Homo sapiens: one gene and its partners. The protein of the gene in region 2 interacts with the protein of the main gene of each other region in a pairwise test. Each region holds a gene or a part of one and is shown on either strand. Other genes may lie near its edges. The genes, in order: TMEM132D, ZNF302 and KRTAP10-6.

Region 1 (4,379 bases), on a different chromosome or scaffold from region 2:
GCACTTTGGGGTATGTGTGTATGTGTGTGTGTCTGTGTGTTTACTTTCAATTAAAATCCTTTTCAATATAGTCCATACTTGATTGCAAGATGGGTGAGAACTTTCAAGTGATCAGAGAATCTTAGAGGGAGGTGATATGAACACATTGGGAAAAGAATGGCCCTGTCCCTGAATGTATAAATCACATCTGCATCATGAAATTCCATTTTATGCAATTTGCTAATAGGGGTGTTGATTTTTTTCTTGTTCTTTGACATATTGTGACTAATCCTGAATCATCTACCATGTGCTCAGACTCTGCTAATTGCTGTACAAAGTCTCCACACAGAACTGATTCACTTTTGAACTGTCTGGCTGACTTGCTTAAGTTCAATACACAAAATATGTCATATGCTAGGCTTATCGTAAACATTTTACGTGCTAATTTTTGGCCACCTAGTAAAGAGGCTTCCACATCACACAGGACCTCATTTAAGGACATGTTCAGTGTTCCCAGTTGAAAAAGTTCACAAGTATTAGGCTAAATACAATTCTCTTCAACACTGCTCAGTCTAATAAAGAAATCAGTAACAGACCTATGTACCTAAGTGAAAAAACACAATAGTGAGGTCCTATTTCCAAAGCTATTCTGTACCTTTCTTAATACAACCTTGTTATTGCAGCATAAACACAAAGAAGTCTGGACCTATTATAAAACCAAGTGAGAACCAACCCCCCCCGCCCCAAAAAAAAAATGCTGGGCTGTTGTTGCTGTGGATTTTGGTTTTTTTAACCTCACGTCTGCCTGAGTCAGGTTCACTGAATTCATCAACCTTTTCTTTGGTTTCCTGTGCACATTATAAATCCAGAAGGCTCTGATCCCAGGGATTGTTCTAACTCATAATTAGGAAACGTGAGCCCATTTCAACCACACTTCAAAGACAGGGAAGGAGGGGGAACGTAAATTCCTCTTTCTAAATCGAACCATCACAGAACTCGGCATTTCAACTGTCTTCATCTATTATCAGATCCAAAGCAACATAACCTCAGTGATTCTGGAAGAACTCAGAGAACAGACAATTCATGTAATTAAAAGACTTTGTGCGTGATAATTGGCTTTGAAGTTTCTGAGAGAGATCTCATCTCAAAAATCTTTGCAGAAAAATATGGGTACAGGGTTCTTGCAGCACGTATTAGAGACTGCTGAGACGCTTCACTCTCCTCCCAGTGTATCTATCTGCAGGAAAGGGGCACGGGTGGGGGAACCACACACAAGCAGCCCAGGTCAATCATGAGAAAGAATCTCCCGCACAAATCACACCATTTCTCTTCAAGGAAGAATGACTGTCCAGAGCTTCCAAACTTGCTCTTCCCATGACAGACAGGGATGCTGGCAGAAGAGAAGAGGAAACATTGAGGAATTCCTGCCTTGACACATGGCTTCAAGTCAGGGCTCCGCTGGGAAAATTCGGGTCACAACTTGTAGCTGAAACTCCACGTGCACCCTGCGGGGCCGCTGCTGCTCCCAGCACCCTACGGAAGGGTGAGCGCCAGACCCTGTGCCCAAACCTCACAGCGGCAGACCTGGAGAAACCCATCCCCCTTCTTCAGAGCCGCCCCCCAGGCTATATTTTTGGCAGCCTATAATACACAAAATAGTATTCCCATACAACAGGAGTGCTCCAAAATTATTTCCAAATAGGTCAGTGCCACCAGGGAAAGTCAATCCCAAATTCCAGAAATCTCCCTGGTCATCTCAATCCCCTCCTCCCCCGACAGCCGGCTCGGCCCTCCAGAGGCCACCTTTCCTCTCAAGGGTCCCCACGCCCTCTCCCTTTACAGAAAAGGCTTTCAGGAAACAGCCTTCCTTTCCTTTCGGCTCCTTAGTAGTCTCACCTAAGGCCTCCCACCCAAGTGCTCCAGGACAAGCACCTTCGGCCAAGGGGCGTCCGAGGAGCTTGGCTGCCGCACGAGCGCACGTTCACACGCGCGCACACACACATGCACACAAGCGCGCACACACACTTGCACACGAGCCCTCTCTCCCGGCCGCCCCCATCCTCCACACACTCCCACACACTCACTCCAGGCGAAGTTAGTCCCCGGGCCCTGGCGGCCGCGGCGTCCTCACCTTTGGAAAACAGGGCGGCCAGGCTGATGAGTACCGGCGACCAGTGGTGCCACAGCGTCCCCATCTCAGACGGGCACATCCTGGAGACCCGGAGCGCAGATCCTCCGCTCCCCGGCGCCGTCCAGGCGAACAAGAGACCGTCTCAGTCCCCTAGAGGCCCGCAGCGGGGCCGGTGGCGAGGGAGCGCCCGGCTAGGGGCCCGAGCAGCCCGGGCGCCCTGCTCCCTCTTCCCGCCAGTCCATGGCCAGGCCGGGAGGCGACGACCGCGCGGGCTCCTGAGTTGCTCTCCGGAGTCCAACACGCGCGCAGGCAAACCCCACCTCCCTCCTTCGACCCCAACAGAATTTTTTTTAAATTTTAATCCACAGGGGGTATTTCCTTTCCTGTTTACCCGAGCGAAGAGTGGCCCCCGGTGGCCCAAGGAGGGGCGCCTCCAGGCGCAGGGCTCCGGCGGCTCCAGCTGCTCCCGGGCTGGCTAGCGGGCGCTGGCGCAGGCGGCGCCGGGGTGGCGGGGCTGCGGAGCCCGGGACGCGGGCAGAGGCGGCTCGGAGCCCCCCGGGCGGGTGGCCGGGCTCGCTGGGCGGCCCGGGGCTCCCTGGCCCGCAGCCCCCATCCCAGGCCGGCCGCTGCGCCTCGGGGCTCGGGCGCGCGCGCGCTCCGGCACCCAAAGTTTGGCGGGTGCGGCTGCTCCCCGGCCGCCGCCTCGGCCCGCCCGGCCCCGGGCCCGGCTGGGGCTCGCGGGGCTCTACGCGCGCCGAGCGCACTGCAGGCTCCGGAGACGCGGGGCTCCCCCCTGCGCCCGGGGGAGGCGGGCCAGATGTGCGCGGAGGAGGGCCCGCCGGCTCGGGGACGCGGCCGAGCAACGCAGCTGCCTCCTGCCAGCAGGCGCGGGGGCTCCGCTCCGCAAGGACCGCATCCGGAACGGAACGGAGGCGATCGCCACGGTGCCCGGAGCCGGCTGGGGCTTTCGCCTTAAAAATTTGTCTGCTTTTAAAAAGCCCCACCCTTTCGGAGTGACAGCTGTGAGCCCCAATCCGCAAAGTAAATCCCACCTCCCCCTGGCCGCCCCACGCCCAGCCTCCCGGCCACCCTCCCTGCGAGCGCGGACGCGCGGTGGCGGCGGGCGAGGGCTCCCAGCGCGGGCGCACCCCGGGGACGGAGCCACCCACTCTCCCAACAGGTGTCCAGCTGGCCACCGGCCTCTCGTCGTCATCAAAACCTCAGGCCCAGGGGAGGTCCTCCAGCCCGGGGGCACCTGAGGCTCTTCGCCAGGGAGAGCGCAAGGATGGCTGGAGAAGGGCCCTCGCCCCGCCCTGCGCATCTCCCAGGGATCGCAGTGAGGAAGTCTCTGACACGCCACACTGAGGTCATGCTGGCCCCAAGCCCCTTCCCAGAGCGATCCCCCAAGTTAGTGTCCCTAGAAACATGTCGTGTGCTCCCCAGGGCTCACTGGGAAAGGAAATGGATCCATTAGGAGACAACATTGCTTTGAGAAGATAAAAGACATGATTCTCAACACCGCCCGGAATCTCCAACTAAGACATTCCCACACCAAGATCCCTAAGCACCGTCCTGTAATTTGTAGCCCAAGAACTGCTTTGCTCCACGAGAGCCTTTAAATTAACCCCATCAAAGCTCAGAGGGAAGAAAAGCATTCAGAATTTTTAAGGAATATTGTAAACCAACAAGCCCTGAATCTAATGAGGTGAATTCACCTCAGTAGATAAAAATGGGTCGTTATCATCTGACTGAGGGGGCAATGGACTTTTTTATCCTGTATGCCTGTAGTTGCAGAAATATACCAATGCTTTAAGAGTTTTTAGCTTTCAAAGTTTCAAGGAAGATCAAAAAAGCCACTGCTGTTCTACCGAAGATTGTTTTTCTGGGTTCATGTCCTTTGAGATGTGCTCTTGTCTTTTATTCTGTATCTACTTATCTGAATATATCTGTCTTTCTGTTTTTTCTTTTGTTTGTTTCTTAAACTTGTTGCCTTTTCTCTTTGTATTGCTCTCCTGTAAAATTCCTAAGAGTCGACGCTGCAAAGACCCTAAGAGATTGTCTCTTTCACTGTTTCTGAAGTTTGAACCAGCAGGAGAGTCACTGGAAAATTTGTTAGACCTGGGTTGCTGGGCCCACCCCAGAGCTATCTCGGCAGGTCAAGGTGGGACTTCCGATCTCCGTTCCTAAAAAGTTCCAGGTGATGCTGATGCTGCCGGCCTGCGGAACACGTGCTGGAACCACTGGTCCCCTTTCTCCTTCACCTGAGTGA
Region 2 (3,257 bases):
ACCCAGGTAACAAGACTCCAAAGCTTAATGCTCTTCACACACACACATCTCGAAGCTCTTAAGGAGTATGGAGTGTTTCTTAAGTCCACAGAAGATGCTCAAGAAATGGTTAATAGGTAAGATTGAGGAAACAATATGTTGTCAGTGACACCATAACATTATTATTATATTCTGGACAAACAGTGTTAGTGTCCCCTAAGAACGTGTGAAAAATGCAAATTCAAATCAACTCATACAGAAACTCTAGGACTGAGGCTTAGCAATCTGTGCTTTAACACGTCCTTCCAGTGATTTCGACACAGCACTAGAGCTCAGAACTACTAGATTCCTTTATCCCATCCCTGTGTAATACACATGAGTAATGCTCAGTAAATGTTCTTGAAATGTATTTAATTAAGCCTACTGGATATGGACTCAATAATCCTCACCAAAATACTGCTATTCTTAGTATAAAGAGCAGGCCATTCTTCTCGAAGTTTGCTAGTCTCCCGCTAAAGGCTATACTAAGGCTAATCTTAGTGAAATTTTTTTTTGTCGCAAACAGTCACAGAGAAAGAGTTCATGATATACAAAATGATTTTATTAGATGCCAAATTTTTATTAACACCATTTTATTTCTTTTGCAGCTTTAATTTTTAACATTATAACATTTACTGGCTCCTCTGGGTGACTAAATATCTTCACATGCCCACTAGCTAAAAAGAATTTCTAAGTAGAACTCAACTGAAACTGCAAGCTACTGCTCTAAGAAATGCATACTTATGTTTATTTGCTCTCCTATATAATCCTGTTTACAAATAGCATAACTGCAAAGATTTATATGTAATTTCTAAATCCTTCAGGTTGCTCTACCATTCATCTTCTTATGTCTGGCAAGATAAACACTCTTAGTGAACACTTTGCTGCATCTCTTAAATGAGATTTGTCTCCAGTTTATTTCCTATAGAATAAGGGATGCACTTGGAACTGAAAAATTCCTTCAATTTCTAAAGTTTCCACATTCATACAACTTTTCTCCTGTAGGAGTTTGCAGGAGATTCCTATTGCCTATAGTCTTTCCCACATTTGCTACATGTACACAGATTTTTCCTAGTGTGAGTATACTTAGGTCAATTAAGGGATTAATACTGACAAAGGCTTTCCCACATTTATTGACTTCATATGATTTCTCTACAGTATAAACTCTAATAAAAAAATCTGCATCATTGCTAAAAGTCTCCCATGTTCACCACCTTCATACAACTTTTCCCCAGTATACATTTTTCTGATGTTAAATAAGGGAGGATCTATGAATGAAGTTTACCGTGATAAACACTGCTTCTCTTCTGTAAGATTTCTCACATGTATAGGGATTCATATGATCTAAAGGCTTTTCCACACTTACCACACTATTGGGTTTCTCTCCATTATGTACTCTTTGATGGGCAGTAAGATTCGAGCCTTTGCTAAAAGCTTTCCCACACTCACTACATTTATATGGCTTTTCTCCAGTATGAATTCTCTGATGTACAGTAAGGTTTGAACTACAGCTGAAGGTCTTCCCACATTTAATACATTCGTAAGGTTTCTCTCCAGTATGAATACTGTGATGTTGAAGCAGGGACGACCTATGACTAAAGGCTTTCCCACATATACTGCATTCGTAGGGTTTCAATCTAATGTGATTTCTCAAATGCATATTCAGTGATTCAAGCTGGTTGAAGGATTTCCTGCATTTCTAAACTTCAAACGGTTTTTCTTCAGTATGAATACTCTGATGTTGAACAAGAAATGAGAAGCTACTAAAGACCTTGAGACATTTGTTGCATTCATATTTTTTCTTCATACTGTGAATTCTTTGATGTTGAGTAAGGTGTGAGCTACAGCAGAAAGCTTTCCCACATTCTCTACATTCATAAGGCTTCTCTCCAGTATGGCTTTTCTGATGGTGAATGAGAGACGAACTATGAATGAAGGCCTTTCCACATATACGACACTCATAGCGTTTTTCTTGCGTATGAATTCTTAGATGCTGAATGAGAAGGGACACACGACTAAAAGACTTTCCACAGTTCATACATTCATACGGTTTCTCTCCCGTGTGAGTGCTCTGATGGTTAGTAAGTGATGAGCCATGGCTAAAGGCCTTCCCACATTCAATGCATTTGTAAGGTTTCTCTCCACTATGGCTTATCTGATGTCGTGTAAGGGATGAACCATGGCTAAAAGTCTTCCCACATTCACGACATTCATAGGGCTTCTCTCCTGTATGAATTCTCCAGTGGCGACTGAGGATTGACTGTTTGCCAAAGGCTTTCCCACATTCACTGCATGTATAGATTTTCTCTCTATTACAAGTCTGGGGAAGGGTAAGAGATTTGCTCTGGTTGAAGGCTGCCCCACTTTTATTAGAATTTAAAAGTTTCTTTCCACCATTTATTCTCTCACTTTTTATAACTGACTTTTTTGATAAATTCTTCTTTAATATATCATATTTGTGTGAATTCCCTTCAGCAGAATTGTTTTGTGGTTCAGAAAGAGTAGACTTTGAATGAAAGGTGCTTCTAAATGTGTCGCATTCTGTATATTCCAAATTCTTATTAGAATTTGAAAATTCATAACTTTGTTTTACAACTTTTTCCATTGTTACTGGTTGGGGTGAATCTTCATCATAAATATCCTTCTTTGTTGATAATTCCTTGTTTTCCCATCTTGATTCCCAATCTGAAATATATCAAGAAAGCAAAGCACTGCCTTTTTTTTTTTTTTTTTTTTTTTTTTTTTTTTTTTTTTTTTTTTTTTTTACTTCTTGAAAAAAGCTTCTACAGTGGAATTAGGAGAATTGGATAAGAAATGAAGCACCCAGAAAACACATAGTTCTGACAACTCAAATATTTCAGTGACTTCTGAACAATGCTCAAATAGAGCAGAGAATCCAAAGTTCACAGAAGCAGGAACAGAGTGTGATAAAGGAAATGGGTAAGCTGTACGAAATGGATAAAATAGTATGGAAAAAAGGAAAGTATCAGAAATAAGATGTGGAAGGCATTCAGGATTACAAATCATCATTTTGTGCCTATATTCATGTGGGAAAGGTTGCATTTTGTTTCATAGCCTTTTTTTCCAACCTTCCATTAATCTCAATTTGCTGCTGGATTATCAAGCTTAAAATACAGAATTGATACTACTATATTAAACAACTGCAGTAAAAACAAAGTAAATGCTCTTTATAGCTGACAAAGATATAGGCTTTCTGAGGTTATGAAGAAACTGTGTGA
Region 3 (3,373 bases), on a different chromosome or scaffold from region 2:
GGAGCTAGGCCCCGGGTGGGCTACCCCAGTCCTGGGGGGCAGCCATGAGCTGGGGAGGGTGAATGTGGCTCAGGGGCCCAGAGTGCTGCCAGGGTCCACTTTGTCCCGAAACTCCTGGCCTTGGTTCCAGAGGCAGCTTTCCTAAGATGGGCCGGGGGGCCATGTGCTGGGGTTGGGGGCCCACGGGGCTAAGAGGGAGACTGGCCTTCAGGGTTCACAGAGGCCAGCACCAGAAGGCATTGCTTCCTGCCTCATCCCATGCCCCTCGGGGGTCCACAGACAGGATGAAAAGTCGACAGAGACAGAGGGGTGGAGCCAGGCCTGCTGGGGGTCAGGACTCTCCCTGCAGTCAGGGGTGGCATCACTTCCCACCTCACCCTGTGCCCCCCGGGGGTCCACAGACAGGACAGAGGTTGGTGTGAGACAGAGGCGGCTTTATTAGAACTAGAGGGGGTGCTGCCCAGGGTGGAACCAGGCCTGCTGGGGGTTAGTTCTGCAGAACTTGGGTCTGGGGGAGTAGCTGGGGTCTCTCATGCAGCCAGCATCTGGGAAGGACAGGGGGAGCATCCTGGTCCCTAAGACAAAGAGCCTGCCCCATCTTCTGAGGGTGTCAAAGCCAGAGAGGGCAGAGCTTGCTGGGGCAGCTGGGAGGTCAGCCCCTGGTGGGAAGGGACTCCGGATCACATCCAGGGCTGTCAGCAGCTGGACTTCTGGCCAGAGCAGAGGCTGTAGCAGGCAGGGCGGGAGCACATGGGGCGGCAGAGGAGGGAAACACAGGAGGCCGTGCGGCAGCAGCTGGGCTGGCAGGAGGAGGCAGAGGCACCACAGGAGGGGACGGGCACGCAGCAGGTGGACTTGCACACAGGGTGGCAGAGGAGGGACACGGAGGAGGAGGATCTGCAGCAGGAGGCGGTGCAGCAAGCCGGCTGGCAGCTAGACTGCTGGCAGCATGATGTGGAAGCCCCAGAGCAGACGGGCACACAGCAGGCGTGCTGGCAGGGGGAGGAGGTGCAGCAAGCTGGCTGGCAGCTAGACTGCTGGCAGCATGAAGAGGAATCCTCAGAGCAGGTGGGCACACAGCACACAGGCACGCAGCAGACGGGCACGCAGCAGGCCTGCTGGCAGGGGGAGGAGGTGCAGCAAGTTGGCTGGCAGCTAGACTGCTGGCAGCATGAGGGTGTGCAGGAGCTGGTGCAGCCTGATTGGCAGGGGCTGGGCTCACAGACCGCCTGGCAGCAGGGGCTGGACACACAGCTCACACAGCTAGACTGCTGGCAGCACGAAGAGGAAATCCCAGAGCAGACAGGCTTGCAGCAGACGGGCACACAGCAGGCCTGCTGGCAGGGGGAGGAGGTGCAGCAAGCTGACTGGCAGCTAGACTGCTGGCAGCATGAAGAATCCCCACAGCAGACGGACACACAGCACACAGGCTTGCAGCAGACAGTCTTGCAGCAGACGGGCACGCAGCAGGCCTGCTGGCAGGGGGAGGAGGCACAGCAAGCCAGCTGGCAGCTAGACTGCTGGCAGCACGAGGGCGTGCAGGAGCTGGTGCAGCCTGATTGGCAGGGGCTGGGCTCACAGGTCACTGGGCAGCAGGGGCTGGACACACGGCTCACTGGGGTGCAGACCAGGCTCAGGCAGGGGGCCGGGGCGCAGCAGGGGGGCTCACAGCAGCTCTCTGGGCAGTCGTCCACCTGCCAGGAGTCGGAGCAAGAGTCACAGGAACCAGGAAGGCAGACGCGGCTGCCGTAGCTCAGGTCGCTGGAGCAGACGGACATGGTGGACGCGGCCATGCTGGGGTTGAACTGGTGGAGGGTGAGGGAGTGAGCCTGTGAGGTGCTGAGGCTCTCGGGCTTTTATTCCACCTGGCCTTGTTGTCCCCGGGCCCACAGCTTCCCCTTCCGTGTTGCCGAGAGCTGGAGTCTGCCGGGATTAGGGGTGTTTGTTCGCCCGTGATGTGGGCCAGCTCATAAATCTCCCATCACATCTGGGCTGTGTCCCATCCCATGTGGATCCCTGGCGGCAGGAATTGGGCGGGGCCTGGTCCCAGCTGGGTTCGGGGAGCTGGGAGAGCCACAGGTCGCGGCATCGTCCACCCCTGGCCCCAGCAGCCCCGGGACACAGAGTCCCTCTGCAGGAAGCCGGCCTCAGGAAGTGTCCTTGTGGTGAAAACCCCTCATCCAGCGTGGTCCTTCCCCCATCACCGGACACAGGACTGTGGCCATCTTCTGAGGGACAACCTGGGGCCCATGAGCCTTCATTGACCTGCCCTGGGCCATGGCATGGTGGGGGTGGGGGGCAGCTGTAACTGTGCCCAGACCTCTTGGCTTTGAGCTCTGGACGACTTCTCATCCCCACAGCCTCTTCACCTCCGGCCCTGTTTCGTGTCCACCTCGTCTTTGTGTTTTGGAGGCAGCAGGACCTGTGTGTTCCAGGGCAAGGACGGTGGGCTTGGCCCCTCCCTGCTTGGACAGCATGACAGCCTTCTGGGCTGTGGTTTTGGGTTCTGAACCTGCAGAGTAACCGTGCTGAGCAGCGGGCGGTCAGCAGCCCTCGTCCCCGCCTGGGGTGGCTCCTCTGTGTGCTCTGCTTCTCCGAGGCTGCCCGTCAGCCCCCACCCAGCCTCCTGCTGGGCCCATTTCCCAGCCCTGTCTTCCAAGCCCTGTGCCAGGCCTCTTAGTGTCACCACCTTAAAATTAAGGGACATCTGTCCAAAGAACCCGCACAGAAGACACAAAATGGGTCCATGAGAAGTTGATCTCACTGCAAACCCATTGCCAGTGTAAACGAAACATAAAATCCTAAGCCCCTCAACTGACTAAATGGATCCCATCTTGCCCACGGGGACCCCCGAAAAACTGCGTTCCTGGCCATGACAGGAAGGGAGGTCAGACACGCCTCGTTACACCCCCTCCCTTTAGGGTTTCGACACAACCACTACCCAGCACTAAAGTTAAAATAGAGACCGTAAGACCCACAGAGCAGACTCTGGCAATAAGATATCAAATTACAAACAGGACCTCAGGCCGCGCCAGGCAAGGGACAAGCCGCGTGCCCTACACTGAGAGGACGGACTCTGCTCTCACGCCACAGCTGCTGTTTTTCTACAGTGGCTAAACACGCACTGGCCCCGCGATGAGGATGAGCAAGGTTCAAACGACTGCAGCTCATCCACCAGCAGATGCCAACTGACCACGTTCCACAGCCATGACCACAGCTCTGACTGGGCAGGAGACTGACTTCAGGAACCTCCTCCTGATAAGGGACCCCCAACCATGGACTGGCTCCAGCCGGTTTACAGAGGCTGTGCACTGGAGTGCCTTTGTGTCCTGAGAAGACTTCTGAGGTTTAGGGCCTCATTGCGACCCATTGA

The links.
Region 1: the proteins of ZNF302 (region 2) and TMEM132D interact in a two-hybrid assay, tested with the Homo sapiens proteins (one large-scale study listed by BioGRID).
Region 3: the proteins of ZNF302 (region 2) and KRTAP10-6 interact in binary tests that used the Homo sapiens proteins (3 or more experiments, as listed by UniProt).

Annotation. Positions count from the first base shown.
Region 1 is NC_000012.12:129,901,151-129,905,529, forward strand, and holds the start of TMEM132D (transmembrane protein 132D precursor), read right to left. Parts: upstream 2,876-4,379; 5' UTR 2,190-2,875; coding exon 2,111-2,189; intron 1-2,110. UniProt on the Homo sapiens protein: Regulate neuronals morphology via inhibition of the WAVE regulatory complex (WCR), a complex that controls F-actin cytoskeletal dynamics.
Region 2 is NC_000019.10:34,683,698-34,686,954, reverse strand, and holds the end of ZNF302 (zinc finger protein 302), read right to left. Parts: intron 2,964-3,257; coding exon of another isoform or gene 2,782-2,963; exon of another isoform or gene 2,704-2,781; coding exon 1,718-2,703; 3' UTR 559-1,717; downstream 1-558. UniProt on the Homo sapiens protein: May be involved in transcriptional regulation.
Region 3 is NC_000021.9:44,590,692-44,594,064, forward strand, and holds KRTAP10-6 (keratin-associated protein 10-6), read right to left. Parts: upstream 1,815-3,373; 5' UTR 1,794-1,814; coding exon 696-1,793; 3' UTR 577-695; downstream 1-576. UniProt on the Homo sapiens protein: In the hair cortex, hair keratin intermediate filaments are embedded in an interfilamentous matrix, consisting of hair keratin-associated proteins (KRTAP), which are essential for the formation of a rigid and resistant hair shaft through their extensive disulfide bond cross-linking with abundant cysteine residues of hair keratins.